Linked DNA regions of Homo sapiens. The protein of the gene in region 2 interacts with the protein of the main gene of each other region in a pairwise test. Each region holds a gene or a part of one and is shown on either strand. Other genes may lie near its edges.

Region 1 (3,500 bases), on a different chromosome or scaffold from region 2:
GCCCTGTGTAGGTAGAGAGATGTCTGAGTTCTATATTTACAGTAGCCACACAAAGGAGTTATATGAATACACCCACAGAGTCACCCAACTCTACACAGTTTTAGGGGTTTGTAACATAAAACTCCAATGGAACTGAAGGAGTTCTAGAAAGTATTTAATTTTACCCCCTCCCTTTTATAGATGAAAAAACAAACCTAGTCCCACAGAGCCTTGAGTAATATTGTGGTAAACCGATTAAGACTAATTGCTGGGGGGGGAGGGGGTTTGGCCTAGGACACTGGGTCTTTTCCATAGGGCAGACCCATGATTGGAGACCATTTGCTTTAGAGAACTTGAAAGTCCCGTAGGTCTAGCTCCTTCCCAAGGCTTTGGGCTCTTTATTTTAAAAAGTGATAATGTACCACCTTCTCCCATTATGTATGCACTTTGGAACTTAGTACTAAGTTTGCCAGTGGGAAAATATCTCAAATGGGAAGACCAGAAGGCAATGCCCACTGCGCAACAGAGGTGGGATTCCGATGCAGTTTTACTCTGCTGTGCCTGAGTGGTAACTAGACCTTTCCATTAGCAAATGCACATGGTTGAGAATACATTTCACGCTCTCAAGCAACTTCACCTCCGAGGAGGTGACCGTGCCCCTCATTCCTCATATAAGCACAGATAGTTTTCACTGTCCAATTCCTACTGATCTCTCTCTCCCTCTGTTATTTATTAAAATGTGCAATAGAACAAGAAAAGGAAAAGATTATCCTGCGTCCTGCCATGCAAGATGGTACGTGGGAGGCCAAGGTTAAATGCAGCATTTGGTTTCTTAAGCTTCTCTAATGTATAGGTGTGGAAAAGCAATCTGGGACCAGAGCTTATAGCAGTGACTCTCTGAGGATAAAAACTTGACTTTAATTTGGACTCTCTGGCTAAGATAAAATCTGCTTCTGCTATCATTATCCCACTTATGTTTGTCCTCCACTCTCTTTTCACTCTGCCACCCAGCTGAGTGGGAAGAAATTAACCTGACCTTGAAGAATACTCAGAGAATCTTCAGGACCATCAAGTTTTCAATAGCCAATAAAATTCCAGAGGCCTACTAACATTGAGATTATAGATTCATAGGCCTGAAAAAGACCTCAGACCACACGGATGAGGGAAATGAAGTCCAGAGAGCTAAAGTGACCTATCCAAAGTTATGAGTTAGTTGGAGGCAGGGTCAGAACTAGAAGGGGGACTCAAGCCCTCCGGTTACCCTCTTCCACCTACACCATGACTGGGCTCCAACCATGCCCAGCATATCTCCAGACCACTCAAGAGGGAATATGTGCACAATAGGGCTTTTATAAGATGTCTGAAATTTTACCAGTGCAAATAAAAACTCCCAAGGAGTTTTCTTTTCAAGAAAATTCTTCTTAAAGGTCATAGAAAGGAGGCTTTTATTTCACCATTCTTATGCTTATGGGGTCTCTATCCAGATTAAAATTACGTATTGAATTTTTTTTTTTTTTTTACCTAGATCATGTTTTTTGCCCCAAAAGATTGCTTCCATTTATGTTTCTGCTTCTATCAAACACAGTCTATATTTTTAGTTTTAGATTCAGGCACAGCCTGTGGACTGTGGGTTTGAGCAAAAATAAGGAGTATGGACTGCTCTCCATCCTGGCACCCAAGGACTAAATTCAGCTCACAGTGCATCTTGTTTGTCCCACACACTGTTTTTATAAATTTGATTTTGGGTTCTACAACCAAGATTACTTTACTTATTTACAGGGACTGCTAGGCCCTGAAGACCTCTGCCCTTGCATTTCCTGTCTAGAACTTCTCTCCTCAAGCCTCCTGGGCAAGAACGAAGCCATGGGTGGGTGGGTCCTGAGTCTCAATGGAGAATCTATAGACAGATCTCCAGGGGCAGCTTCTAGAGTCTGCTTTAGACCACCAGACCTCCTATAATGCTGAGTGATCAAAATTAATAAACAAAGTGATCCCCCTACCTGTGCGTCTCTGAAAGGATAATACTTTAGACTCCTATCTATCTTAAAACAACTTGGTTTTGTAAATGTAATCCTTTTCACAGAATTCAGTAAAAGAGTAAAATAAAATTACACTGCAATATTGCAGAAAAGCCTGATACGAGGTATTTGGATAATTTTTGTTTAGAGTGTTACTACCTACCAACACTATTAATTTTTTTTCATCTCAGGAAATGACCTCACCCAAATATAACACACAACCTACTTACATTTATTTTTTTCTAAAGATATGGGAGCATCTGCACAGTTTTAGAAATAATTGTTGTCCTCCAAAGTTTTGTTTTTAAAGCAAAAAACCTAATTGACTGGCTTTCCCTGGTAATCTACATTGCATAGTTCTAAACTAATATCTCTCCAGCAGATTTTTGAATAATGTAAAAAGATAAAGCCCACATGAAAATAAAGGGTTGTAAAATAAAATTTAGGCTATCATACATGAATTTAGTTGATCTTTATTCCCTTAATAATCTTCAAACAAAAACACTTTATAAAGATCATTAGTTTGGAGAGTTAAATATCTTTGCAATTCCTTTTAAACAGTTTTCTTTTTAAAAAGTTCAAACATTCCATGTTCCACAAACTCAAAAAGCCTGCAGCTAGTGTAAAAATTTTTTTTAAACCAAAATATTCTCTATTTCCTTTATACATGCCTGTAGTAAAGGAAAAAAGTCCTTTTATGCCTACCGACACAGATTTGTTTAACATCTTCTCAGTAATGTTTTAAAAAAAATTTGTAGCAAGTCACTCATTTGGTGGTCATCTGTTAGATCCACAGAAGTTAGAGTAACAGCTCCTCTATATTTAAATGTACTCTAAACATATTTATTAAGTTTATAAGTTAAAACTTCAAAAATGAAAAATTAGAATATTCTCTCAGTGTTACAAAGAAAGAAATGTAGCTCTGAGCCTTCATTTGTTGCAAAACCAAAACAAAACAAACAGCCCTGGGATTTCCACGAGAAACTGTTAGGAGAACTTTCGGAAATTCCCCTAAGTTTATTTTCATGAGGCTGCGTGGTCACTTCATCTAAAGTCCTGTCAACAGTCATTCAACAGGGCTTGTCTTCACTGGGATCTCACTGGCCAACAGAAATTTATAAAACACTGACAGTGTTCAGGGAAGGCTGAGGTCCACAGAGCTCAAAACTTTCACCTAACAGGAAGGAATACTGGACTATATCGGACAACTGGGGACACACCTAAGTAATTTCACTCCTCAAGGAAGGGCAATATTTTTCTTTGGTAATTTTACCTATTTTGGTGCCTGGAATAGAGAAATTAGATGGTATATAGGTACATCTAATGTAAGTGTTCTTAAAAAGCATTAAATTAATTTTTTGGAATAATAAAGTTGAATCCCAAATGCTGCCAACATTAAGGTTGCTGTAATCATGCCTTCTGTAAATTTGATGACACCTGCTCTTTCAGTAGGTGTCAAGTGGACAATGAAGACGTTTTTGGACCATGTTCATTTTAGTCCTA
Region 2 (3,500 bases):
AAACACTCCTTAGAACAATTACTTTTTAAGGAGGCAGAAAATACATATACACCATAAAATAAATAATAAACCATATAAATATACATGCCACTCTGCCACATAACAGTCAAGTGGTGACTGAAACAGTGGGACTATTTGTCATCACTAGGGAAATACTTTATAACTAAGTTGTAGTTAACTATGTAAATGACAGAGTTTGGTTCAGTTTTACAAACAACAGATTATAAAATTTGTCTCCTTCAATAAAAGAGACAGTTATCAGGCCTTATGTGCTATATGCTCTTTGTAAATAATAAGAAATTGTAGCTCCAGCAAACTGCCAACTCCTCTGGCTCTACAGCTGTGTATGCTACCCAACTCTCCTACTAATAAAAATGTTATTTAAGGTTTTTTGAGGACTACAAAGCATTTTTTAAAGCACTATATTCAAGCAGCTAAGACGCACAGTCTAAAATGGTGATTTACAACTGGTATGCTGAGGTTGGTTGTATAGTATGTGGCAAGTAATTTGTTTCTAACAATAGAGTAGTAAAGTTGGCAGGGTATTTTTAAATATAAAACTAATATTCCTGATAATATTATCAGTCTCACCAGTGATATTCCAACATTCTTTCTTGAGTGAGAGTCAAAAGACAAATTAGCACTAAGAGGTCCTGGGAACAATATATGGGCCAAAGCCCATTATTACTATAAAAGAAAGAATAATGGCTATTTTGGGGGGGAAGAAAGATTATGATTGGGATGGGGCACATTGAAAAGTTTGTGGGGTGCCTAGAAAAGTTCTATTTCTTGACTTAGTTATAATTACAAGAGTTCTAGACGTTTGCCTTATAACTCATTAATTTATACATTGGTATTGTGTGGTTTTCCGTATCTAGTTTCATTTACAATAAAATCTTTTTAAAAACCAATAAAGCAAGAGAAACTCTAATAGCTGTGAGGCTAACTGAGACCGTGGTACAGCTCACTTAATCTTTTATTATCTTTTGGAAAAAGTGGGGGTACAAATGAAAATATACTTTTAACCTCAGCTTTTTGTATGTAAAGTTAGGATAAAACAAACACCCCGTATACCACTAGGGATTTTGGTGCTGATTTAATGAAAGTCTACTTGTAAAAATATTTTGAAATACTTTGAAATTCTGTAACATTCTCTGCAAATGCAAAGTATTCTTAAAACCACATAGAATAAACAATAGTCTCACTTCCTTGCTTAAAGCCCTTCAATGACACCACCCATTTAGCAGTAATTTTCATAGTGTTCTTTGTGGAAACCTAAGACTCCACAGACATGCTTCAGGGGCAGGGCATCATGTACAGATATGCAGATTGTGCTTTGCACAACGGTGCCTGGCACAAGTGGATCTAAAATCTGGCCTTCATTGTTCGCCAAGCCTTGAACCTTAGTGAAGAGACATTTTCCTTTGCATGTCGAGAGGGAGCTCCTTTTCCTAAACTGTTCAGAGACTCTCTAAGTGCTAGCTGTAGTTCTGTTCAAAAGTTCCCCATTAAACAGTACCTTATTTCTGTCAAAAAATAAAAACAAACTGTCTGCAAGTCTTCTTCAAAGTTAAGACAACACAAACACATTTTATATTTGTAATTCCTTCATTTACAAACATATTTGAGCATTTGAGTTCCTCTTCTGTGAGTTGCCTGTTCATATTCTTTGCCCATGTTTCCCATTGGGATTTTTTTTCTGAAATCACAGAAGCTAATTCTAAATTAACCTGTCAGTTATGCACATGTTATAAATCTTCTCCCAGTCTGTGAAAACTTACACATTGCAAGTGCAAGTGTAAACTGGTAATAATCCTTTTGAAAACAATTTAGCAATAACCAGTAGAGATGAAGGGATAGGCCAGGCCTAGTGGCTCACACCTGTAATGCCAGAATTTTGGGAGGCCAAGGCGGGCAGATAACTTGAGGTCAGGAGTTCGAGACCAGCCTAGCCAATAAGGCAAAAACCTGTCTCTACTAAAACACAAAAAATTAGTTGGGCATGGTAGTGCATGCCTGTAATCCCAGCTACTTAGAACGCTGAAGCAGGAGAATCACTTGAACCCGGGAGGCGGAGACTGCAGTGTGCCGAGATTGTGCCACTGCACTCCAGCCTGAGTGACAGAGCCAGAATCCATCTCAAAAAAAAAGAAGGTATAAAGGTATACATGTCCCAGCTATTCTTAGGAAAACTCTCATACATGAGTACAAGGAGGTACTCACAAGGCTATTCATTAGAATACCATTAGTAATAGCAAAAAAGTAAAAACAATGATGGCCTTCATAATCTAAATAAACTTTCCCATCTAATTTTCCATCCTTTCCCTCTTTTCTCTGAAATTTTATTCATTCATTCATTCATTCATTTGCTGCCTTAAGGAATATTACTAGACACCTACTCTGACTAGACACCATGCTAGGTAGGCAATCATGCTTAATTACTTGCAGTTACCCTACTAAACCATGGTCTCTTACTGGCTAAAGAGACTTTTCCTGTCCTTCCTCTGGGTTTTGACATAATTTTGTACATATCCCTGTTAAACTACTTATCAGTACTCCATAATACTTGTTATTCAATTATCTAGCTACAAAATAAGTGAAGGCAGTCCCAAATCACACATTCAATTAAATATCTGAACAAAGGGCAATTCTGTTTTTTAAAATTCCATCCAACAATTACCAAAAAAAAAAAAAAAAGTATTTTCTAAGCGAATATTCAGTGCTAGAATACTACTTTCATGAGGATGTCATGAAAGTATTTGTTATCATGGTATCCCCAGCACCTAGATCATTGCCTGACACATAAGAGTCACTCAATAAATAATTGTTAAGACCAAAAAGCCCAAGCAATATTATCTGACAAATAATAATATTTAAAAGTGAAAACAGAATCGTTAATTTATGTAGATGTTTTATCACTGAATAAGTAAAAGCTGTTTTCCCTCTTAAATAAAAAGTATTTTTTCTTTCATGGTGAGTTGCCCTCACATCTTCCCACCAAATACTTTTAGGACATGTCCCAATGAATTTCTTTGCTATACAAGGTTATCAGAGACTCAACATCAATCATTTTCTTCTCTGTGTTACTAACACAGAAAAATTCCCACATTAACTATGAAAGGCTGGAATTGCAGCATTACTGTTAGATATATAACATTTTATATTATAAAATACACTAAAAGTAAAAATAGATAAAAGTATGCCTACTACCTAAAAGACTGCCCTGTTAAAGACTGAATAATGAAATCACACATACACACATATACACCCACACATTTCCATTTGTTAAAAAGTTATTTGCATAGTTTGAGTTGAGAAAATGTTATGCACTAAAAGGCATATAAATCTAGTATGTATCAGGCCTCATTTGTGCTACATTCTATATTAGTATTCTACTGTATAATATAGTTAAGAATATTTATATAAAAACAAGACATAAAGATTTAAGCTCTCTCAGTTATTAAATGCAACAGCATCAAAATGGCTTACCAAGTTATCAT
Region 3 (3,500 bases), on a different chromosome or scaffold from region 2:
TAGTTACCACCGATTATAAAAAGATCCCCAGCTACGCATGGTGGCACATGCCTCTAGTCCCAGCTACTCAAGAGGATGAGGTGGGAGGATCGCTTGAGCCCAGGAGTTTGAGACCAGCCTGCAATGTAGAGAGACCTCATCTCAAAAATTAAAAAAAAAAAAAAAGAGAGAGAGAGAGATCCCTAAACTTTGGAAAATAACAGTCTAGAAGGGGCTATAGGTGTATTAATCAACAAAATAAACAAGAAACTTAGTTGCATAATCCTTAGATAATTCAGAGTAGAAAAATAATAGTTTTGTTCTGTTTCATGAGTGACAGTATTGAAATGTTTTCCATTTCTTATTTTAAAAGTTTCCTTCATTGGCTGGGCATTGGTGGCTCACATCTGTAATCCTAGCACTTTGGGAGGCCAAGGCAGGAGAATCTTTTGTGCTCACGAGTTCAAGACCAGCCTGGGTAACATAGCAAGACTATGTCTCTATTAAAAAAAAGGAAAGAAAGAAAAGTTTCCTTTGTAAACCCACAATAACCTAATCTGCCAAAAATTTCATCTCTAAGAACACTACTAAGTACAATTTGTGACATATTGCCAATTCCACTGTTATAAAAAATCACTCAGTAAGCTGATTTTAAGTACTGACAATAAGTAAAGAGTAATGCACTTTGTTTCATATCCATTACCAAGTACCTAGTTTTTTGTTTGTTTGTTTGTTTTGAGATGGGGTCTCACACTGTCACCCAGGCTGGAGTGCAGTGGCGCGATCTTGGCTCACTGCAACCTCCACCTCCCAGGTTCAACCAGTTCTCCTGTCTCAGCCTCCCGAGTAGCTGGGACTACAGGCGCCTGTAACCATCAAGTACCCAGTTTTTAAATATCTCCTGGATTGGACACATATCTAACATAATATTTTCATATGGTATTGGTATTTAATATAATACGGTAATTCCATATTATTTTCATTTACTGTATACCACTTTGGACTTACATTTTTTGTTGTTGTTGTTGAGATGGGTTCTCACTCTGTTGCCCAAGCTGGAGTGCAGTGGCGTCATTACAGCCCACTGAAGCCTCAAACTCCCAGGTCAAGCCATCCTCCCACCTCAGCCTCCCAAGTAGCTGGGACAAGTGCACACCACCACACCAGGCCAATTTACTTTTATTTTATTATTATTTTTTATGAAACAGGGCCTCACCATGTTGCCCAGGCTGGTCTCAAATTCCTGGCCTCAAGAAATCCTCCCACCTTGGCCTCCCAAAGTGCTGGGATTACAGGTGTGAGCCACTGTGCCCAGCCCTTAAATTTTTTAAGTAACTTTTTAATTAAAAAAAAAACTTTTAATTTTGGATGCAAAAACCAGATTTCAATTAGACTGAAAAAATAACCTCATTCAGAATCACTAGGGATAAAAGTATTTTGATGAGTTATATAGTAATATTAATTAATAAAGTTATACACAGATTACTTTTCAAACAATCTATATATATTATAAATAAATTATAATTATTGTTTCATTATTGCATCTTTTTTTTAGTGATCCAAAAGGCCTTGGTGTCATCCTTATGATTTTTTTTTTTTTTGAGACAGGGTCTTGCTCTGTTGCCCAGGCTGTGGCATGCTCATGTCAGTGCAGTGGCATGCTCATGGCTCACGGTAGCCTCGACCTCCCAGGCTCAAGCCATCTTCCTACCTCAGCCTTCCAAGTAGCTGTTACTACAGGCATGTGCTACCACACCTGGCTAATTTTTGTAGTTTTTGTAGAGTCAGGGTTTTACCATGTTGCCCAGGCTGGTCTTGAAGTCCCAGGCTCAAGCAATCTGCCCGCCTCAGCCTCCCAAAGTGCTAGGATTACAGGCGTGAGCCACCACTCCTGGCCTCATCCTTATAATTTCTAATTATCATAAATATACCAGTTAATATGGAGCTAAATTTAATAAAGGCTAAATAGCAGAGTACATTCTATGGCCTTGTGATGTGTAGGGTCTCTTTTCAAAATAATTAATGAATCCTTAGGACAAAAGACATTTATTGAGCACCTACTATAGGCAAGTTTCTGTGTTAATCACTCAGTTCTTCTCATACATGGTCTGGAACTATAGCTTGACATATGAGCCAATTATCATTGGACATCTATCTAGGCCAGGTGCAGTGGCTCACTCCTGTAATCCCAGCACTTGGGAAGGTTGAGGCGGAAGGATCACTTGTGGCCAAGAATTCAAGACCAACCTGACCAACATAGTGAGACCCCCATTTCTACAAAAAATGAAAGATAATAAATCAGCAGGTCATGGCGGTTTGTACAATAAATTACCAGGTTATGGTGGTGGATGCCTGTAGTCCTAGCTACTCAGAAGGTTGAGGCAGGAGGATCGTCTGAGCCTAGGAGTTTGTGGTAGCCTGGGCAACAGAGCAAGGACTATCTCTTTAAAAATAATAATAAAAAAAAAAAACTGGATGTCTGATAAAAGATCTACCAATAATCAATAATCTTTTAGTCCTAAATAAGTGTAAGTATATACATTTATATATGAATGAAAAGTTTATAACAATGTATTTTTAAAGTATCACTTGAAAGCGTATGCTATTTTTATGGCATCATCTATATCTTACTGACTGAGAAAACAAATTTCTGCTCATATTCAATGGATATTTTAATGGACTAATTGCGATCCTGAAATCTGCTTATGTAAATTTAACAGTTAAAATTTGGCTTTACACAAAAAAGAATGAAATCATATCCTTTGCAACAACATGGATGCAGCTGGAGGCCATTATTCTTAGTGAATTAACACAGAAACAGAAAACCAAATACCGCATGTTCTCACTTATGACGGGGAGCTAAACACTGGGTACACATGGACTGTTATGAATTAATGTGACCCCCAAATTAGACACTGATGACCCCAAAATGGGGAAGGGTGGGAGGAGGGCAAGGGTTGAAAAACTACCTATAGGACACTATGCTCATTATTTGGGTGACAGGATCAATAGAAGCCCAATCCTCAGCATCACATAATATACTTATGTAAGAAACCTGCACATGTACCCCCTAAATCTAATTTTGTTAAAATTGGCTTTAAGTGACAGTCTAGCAAAAAATATCCAATAACATTTTTGTTTTCCAAGCTTTCTTTTTCAATTATACAGTTTAAGTGCTTAAAAAATTACTGAGCTTTATCAAAGAATTACTAGCCCCAATCTCCTACTTTAAAAATTTATTTAAATAAAATGCATCACAATAAACATAATAAAAAGTACTTTTTCAGCACTATTTTAATTGAATGCAACAAATTCTGAGGGCCTTCTATGAACCAGAAACTGTCCTTCGCATTCAGTGTACAAAAACAAGACACAGTCTCTGTTCTCCAGAAGCTTAAAGACCAGAGGGGGAATAAACACCTACATCAATAAATAATTTCAACACAATGTGGTAGAAGTATACACAGAAAGGAGAGGCCCTTAGCTGAGGTGAAGGAACATGAGAGACTGGGTAGGGGTGA
Region 4 (4,189 bases), on a different chromosome or scaffold from region 2:
GCTCAAGGGATCCACCTTCCTCAGCCTCCCTAAATTCTGGGATTAAAGGTGTGAGACGCCACACACATCCATGGCCAGGGGTCTTAAAGGCCCCATTTTATGGATGAAGGTCCTGAGGCCCTTGGAAGCAAACAAGTTTACAAAACACCCAGGCTCCATTAGGAAGTGAAGCGCTCCATGCATTTCCTGAGGCTGTTTTCACAAGGTGCCAGTAACCCGGGGGCTTAAAATAACAGGAATATATCCTTTCCCAGTTCTGGAAGTCTGAGATCAAGGTGTGGGCAGGGCTGTACTCCCTCTGAAGGCTCTAGGGAAAAGCTCGGGTATGGTGGCTCATACTTGTAATCCCAGCACTTTGGGAGGCTGAGGCGCGAGGATCACTTGAGCCCAGGGGTTCAAGACCAGCCTGGCCAACATGGTGAAACCTCGTCTACTAAAAATACAAAAAAAATAGCCAGGTGTGGTGGCACATCCCTGTAAACCCAGCTACTCAGGAGGCTGAGGCACGATAATTATTTGAACCTGGGAGACAGGGGTTACAGTGAGCCAAGACTGTGCCACTGCACTCCAGCCTGGGCAATGGAGCAAGACTCTATCTCAAAAAGAAAAGATAAGGAAAAGAAGAAACAAAAGCTCTCAGGAAAAATCCTTCCGCCTCTTCCAGCTACTGGGGTCATGAGTATTGTCCTTATAAGAGAAAGAGACAGCTGGACTAGGTGACTCACGTCTGTAATCCCAGCATTTTGAAAGGCCAAGGCGGGCAGACCACGAGGTCAGGAGTTCGAGACCAGCCTGGCCAACATGGCAAAACCCCCGTCTCTACTAAAAATACAAAAATTAGCTGGGTGTGGTGGCGTGCACCTGTAATCCCAGCTACTCGAGAGGCTGAGGCAGAATTGCTTGATCCTGTGGGGTAGAGATTGCAGTGAGCCGAGATCGTGCCACTGCACTCCAGCCAGGTGACAGACCGAGACCCCATCTCAAAAAATAAAAATAAAAACAAAAAAGGAGAAAGAGACACAGGGAAGAAGGCCACATGATGATGCAGGCAGAGCTTGGAGTGATGTGGCCCCAAGCCAAGGGACACCAACTATGGCAGGCCACCCCCAGAAGCTGGAAGAGACAGAGAAGATCCTCCCGCCAGAGCCTTCAGAAGCACCACGGCCCCACCACATCTTCATGTTGGGCTTCTGGCCTCCAGACTTGTGAGAGAATAAATTTCAAGCCTCCCCCTGCCCCCTGGTTTGTGGTGCATTGTCACAGCAGCTCCAGGAGGCTCATGTAAGAACCAAAGGCGCCGGGCGCAGTGGTCACTTTGGGAGGCCGAGGTAGGTGGATCACCTGAGGTCAGGAGTTCGATACCAGCCTGGCTGGCCAACATGGAGAAACTCTGTATCTACTAAAAATATAAAAATTAGCCAGGCGGGGTGGCGTGCACCTGTAATCCCAGCTACTTGGGAGGCTGAGGCAGGAGAATCACTTGAACCCACGAGGTGGATGCAGTGAGCCGAGATCGTGCAACTGCACTCCAGCCTGGGCAATAGGGCGAGACTGTCTCAAGAAAAAAAAAAGAAGAAGAAAAAGAAACCAACCTGTTTGGGTAGGGGAGAGTTCAGGGAGGTTGGGGTTGCTAGAGCAGCAGAAAGGTCAGCTGCCTCCCTCATTCCTCAACATGGGTGGTGGGTATAAACAGAATAGACCCTTGCAGCTGCGCGGTGGCTCACGCCTGTAATCCCAGCACTTTGGGAGGCTGAGGCGGGTGGATCACCTGAGGTGGGAGTTCGAGACCAGCCTGGCCAACATGGTGAAACCCCGTCTCTACTAAAAATGCAAAAATTAGCCGGGCGTGGTGGCATACGCCTGTAATCCCAGCTACTTGGGAGGCTGAGGCAGGACAATGGCTTGAACCCGGGAGGCGGAGGTTGCAGTGAGCCGAGATCATGCCATTGCACTCCAGACTCCGTCTCAAAAAAAAAAAAAAAAGGACCCTTGCTGTCTTATCACCAGGACAGCGGTGCTAACGTATAAGTGAGGTCTCTCCCTCAGGGCGCTGTGGACACTGGAGCCTGGGTCATTCTCTGGGCTGGGCAGGGTGCTGAGTTGCATCCCTGGCCTCCACCTACTCCATGCCAGGAACTGCCCCCAGTTATGACAACCACAGACGTCCCCAGACATCGCCCGGTGTCCCCTGGAGGGCAGGACCGCCCCTCGCTCAGACCCTCTGATGTGGCCTCACTGCAGTGCGAGCGTGGCAGCCCCTCTCTGCCTTTAGGGTAGAGTCAATGCGTCTTCTCCCTCTCCTTGCAGGCTGGGCCTCGGAAAGCTTATGCGTCTCTCACCCAGGGGCGTTTTCACAGGGCAAGGGCAGACCGTGCCATCCTGGGCGTTGGGGCCCTGGGCGAGCTGCCGGCTCCCGACCCTCCCGTGGGGACCCTATCGCGACAGGGTCATGCCCCGGCCACCCGGCCCCGCCAGACCCAGCCCCACCAGAGCCCCGGCAGGCCCGGCACGGAGGTCGCGGCGCGGGAGGCGGCGGCACTTACGGCTGAGCTGCCGGGAGCCGCGCGCGCCGGCCCAGGTGGGCGCAGGTGACCATCGGGGCGCGCGCTGAGGCGCCAGACAGGGCCCCCGAGGCGGGAGCGCCCCGTGCAGGCCGGCCGGCCTCCCCTGCGTGTCCCTGGGACGCCTCCTCCGCTCGGCTCCTCGGCGCTCGGAGCGGACGCCCCCCGCAGGCGCCCCTCAGGAACTCGCCGCAGCCGCCGCCACCAACCCCGACGCGCGCAGAGGTAAACTCGGCACTGCGCCTGCGCACCCCGAACCTGCGAACTACAAGTCCCAGCAGGCCCCGCAGCGCGGCGCTGGGCTCCTGACTCTCCAACCTGGGTCACAGCGCCGCCTCCGGGCGGGCGGCGTCTCCGCAGGACCACGATGCCCCTGCGGCTGTTGGATCCACCCCGTGTGGTTCGCTGGAGTCCCCGGGTGTTGTGGGGTTCGCGGAGCCAATCCTCAAATCCCAGCTCCGTCGTTTCCCGGCGGCTTGCCATTGGATATTAATAACTACTATTATTTATTAAGCAAGTTATATAAACGTATAATGTATTACATACTTATTAAAATGATTGCTTAAGTAATTGTTGTTTGTTTTTGAGACTGAGTTTCGCTCTTGTCGCCCAGGCTGGAGTGCAATGGCATGATCTCAGGTCACTGAAACCTCCGCCCCCTCGGGTTCAAGCGATTATCCTGCCTCAGTCTCCCAAGTAGCTGGGATTACGGGCGTGCACAACCACACTCGGCTAATTTTTTATATTTTTGGTAGCGACGCGGTTTCACCATGTTGGCCAGGCTGGTCTCGAACTCCTGACTTCCAGTGATCTGCCCGCCTTGGCCTCCCAAAGTGCTGGGATTACAGGCGTGAGCCACCACGCCCAGCCAAATTAAATTATTGTTTAAATATTTATTTAATATTCTACTGATTGTTATTTATGAGAAATTAAAATAGTAAAACTACTATAATTAATATACTGTTGTAGGATACAACAAATTCCTCTTCAAAGGTTTTAGCCTGTAAATTGTTAAGTACAATCAGTTATGAGCTCCTCTCCAAAGAACCAATGTTTCCGTATATTCAGCTCCCCTGTTCTTTTTTTTTTTTTTTTTGAGATGGAGTCTCGCTCTGTCGCCCAGGCTGGAGTGCAGCGGCGCGATCTCGGCTCACTGCAAGCTCCGCCTCCCAGGTTCACGCCATTCTCCTGCCTCAGCCTCCCAAGCAGCTGGGACCACAGGCGCCCGCCACCACGCCCGGCTAATTTTTTTGTATTTTTAGTAGAGACGGAGTTTCACCGTGTTAGCCAGGATGGTCTCGATCTCCTGACCTCGTGATCCGCCTGCCTCAGCCTCCCAAAGTGCTGGGATTACAGGCGTGAGCCACCGCGCCCGGCCACCTATTCTTTGTTCTTCATTTTAAACTTTAACTTCCTCGTTCTTTTCGTTTCCTTGCCCCTAGTTTCAGTAAACAACCCCTCCTAGCCCCTATCACCTGCTCTGACCTTAGTCACCCTTGGTCACCTGCTCTGACCTTAGTCATCCTTGGTCACCTGCTCTGACCTTAGTCATCCTTGTCACCTGCTCTGACCTTAGTCATCCTTGGTCACCTGCTCTGACCTTAGTCATCCTTGGTCACCTGCTCTGA

The links. Proteins that work in one complex are often made in the same cells at the same time.
Region 1: the proteins of TSEN15 (region 2) and POU6F2 interact in binary tests that used the Homo sapiens proteins (3 or more experiments, as listed by UniProt).
Region 3: the proteins of TSEN15 (region 2) and IKZF3 interact in binary tests that used the Homo sapiens proteins (3 or more experiments, as listed by UniProt).
Region 4: the proteins of TSEN15 (region 2) and ZNF554 interact in binary tests that used the Homo sapiens proteins (3 or more experiments, as listed by UniProt).

What each region holds. Positions count from the first base shown.
Region 1 is NC_000007.14:39,341,409-39,344,908, reverse strand, and holds part of POU6F2 (POU domain, class 6, transcription factor 2), read right to left. Parts: intron 1-3,500. UniProt on the Homo sapiens protein: Probable transcription factor likely to be involved in early steps in the differentiation of amacrine and ganglion cells. Recognizes and binds to the DNA sequence 5'-ATGCAAAT-3'. Isoform 1 does not bind DNA.
Region 2 is NC_000001.11:184,058,230-184,061,729, reverse strand, and holds part of TSEN15 (tRNA-splicing endonuclease subunit Sen15), read right to left. Parts: exon of another isoform or gene 3,490-3,500; intron 1-3,489. UniProt on the Homo sapiens protein: Non-catalytic subunit of the tRNA-splicing endonuclease complex, a complex responsible for identification and cleavage of the splice sites in pre-tRNA. It cleaves pre-tRNA at the 5' and 3' splice sites to release the intron.
Region 3 is NC_000017.11:39,857,813-39,861,312, forward strand, and holds part of IKZF3 (zinc finger protein Aiolos), read right to left. Parts: intron 1-3,500. UniProt on the Homo sapiens protein: Transcription factor that plays an important role in the regulation of lymphocyte differentiation. Plays an essential role in regulation of B-cell differentiation, proliferation and maturation to an effector state.
Region 4 is NC_000019.10:2,818,479-2,822,667, reverse strand, and holds the start of ZNF554 (zinc finger protein 554), read right to left. Parts: upstream 2,801-4,189; 5' UTR 2,597-2,800; coding exon 2,544-2,596; intron 1-2,543. UniProt on the Homo sapiens protein: May be involved in transcriptional regulation.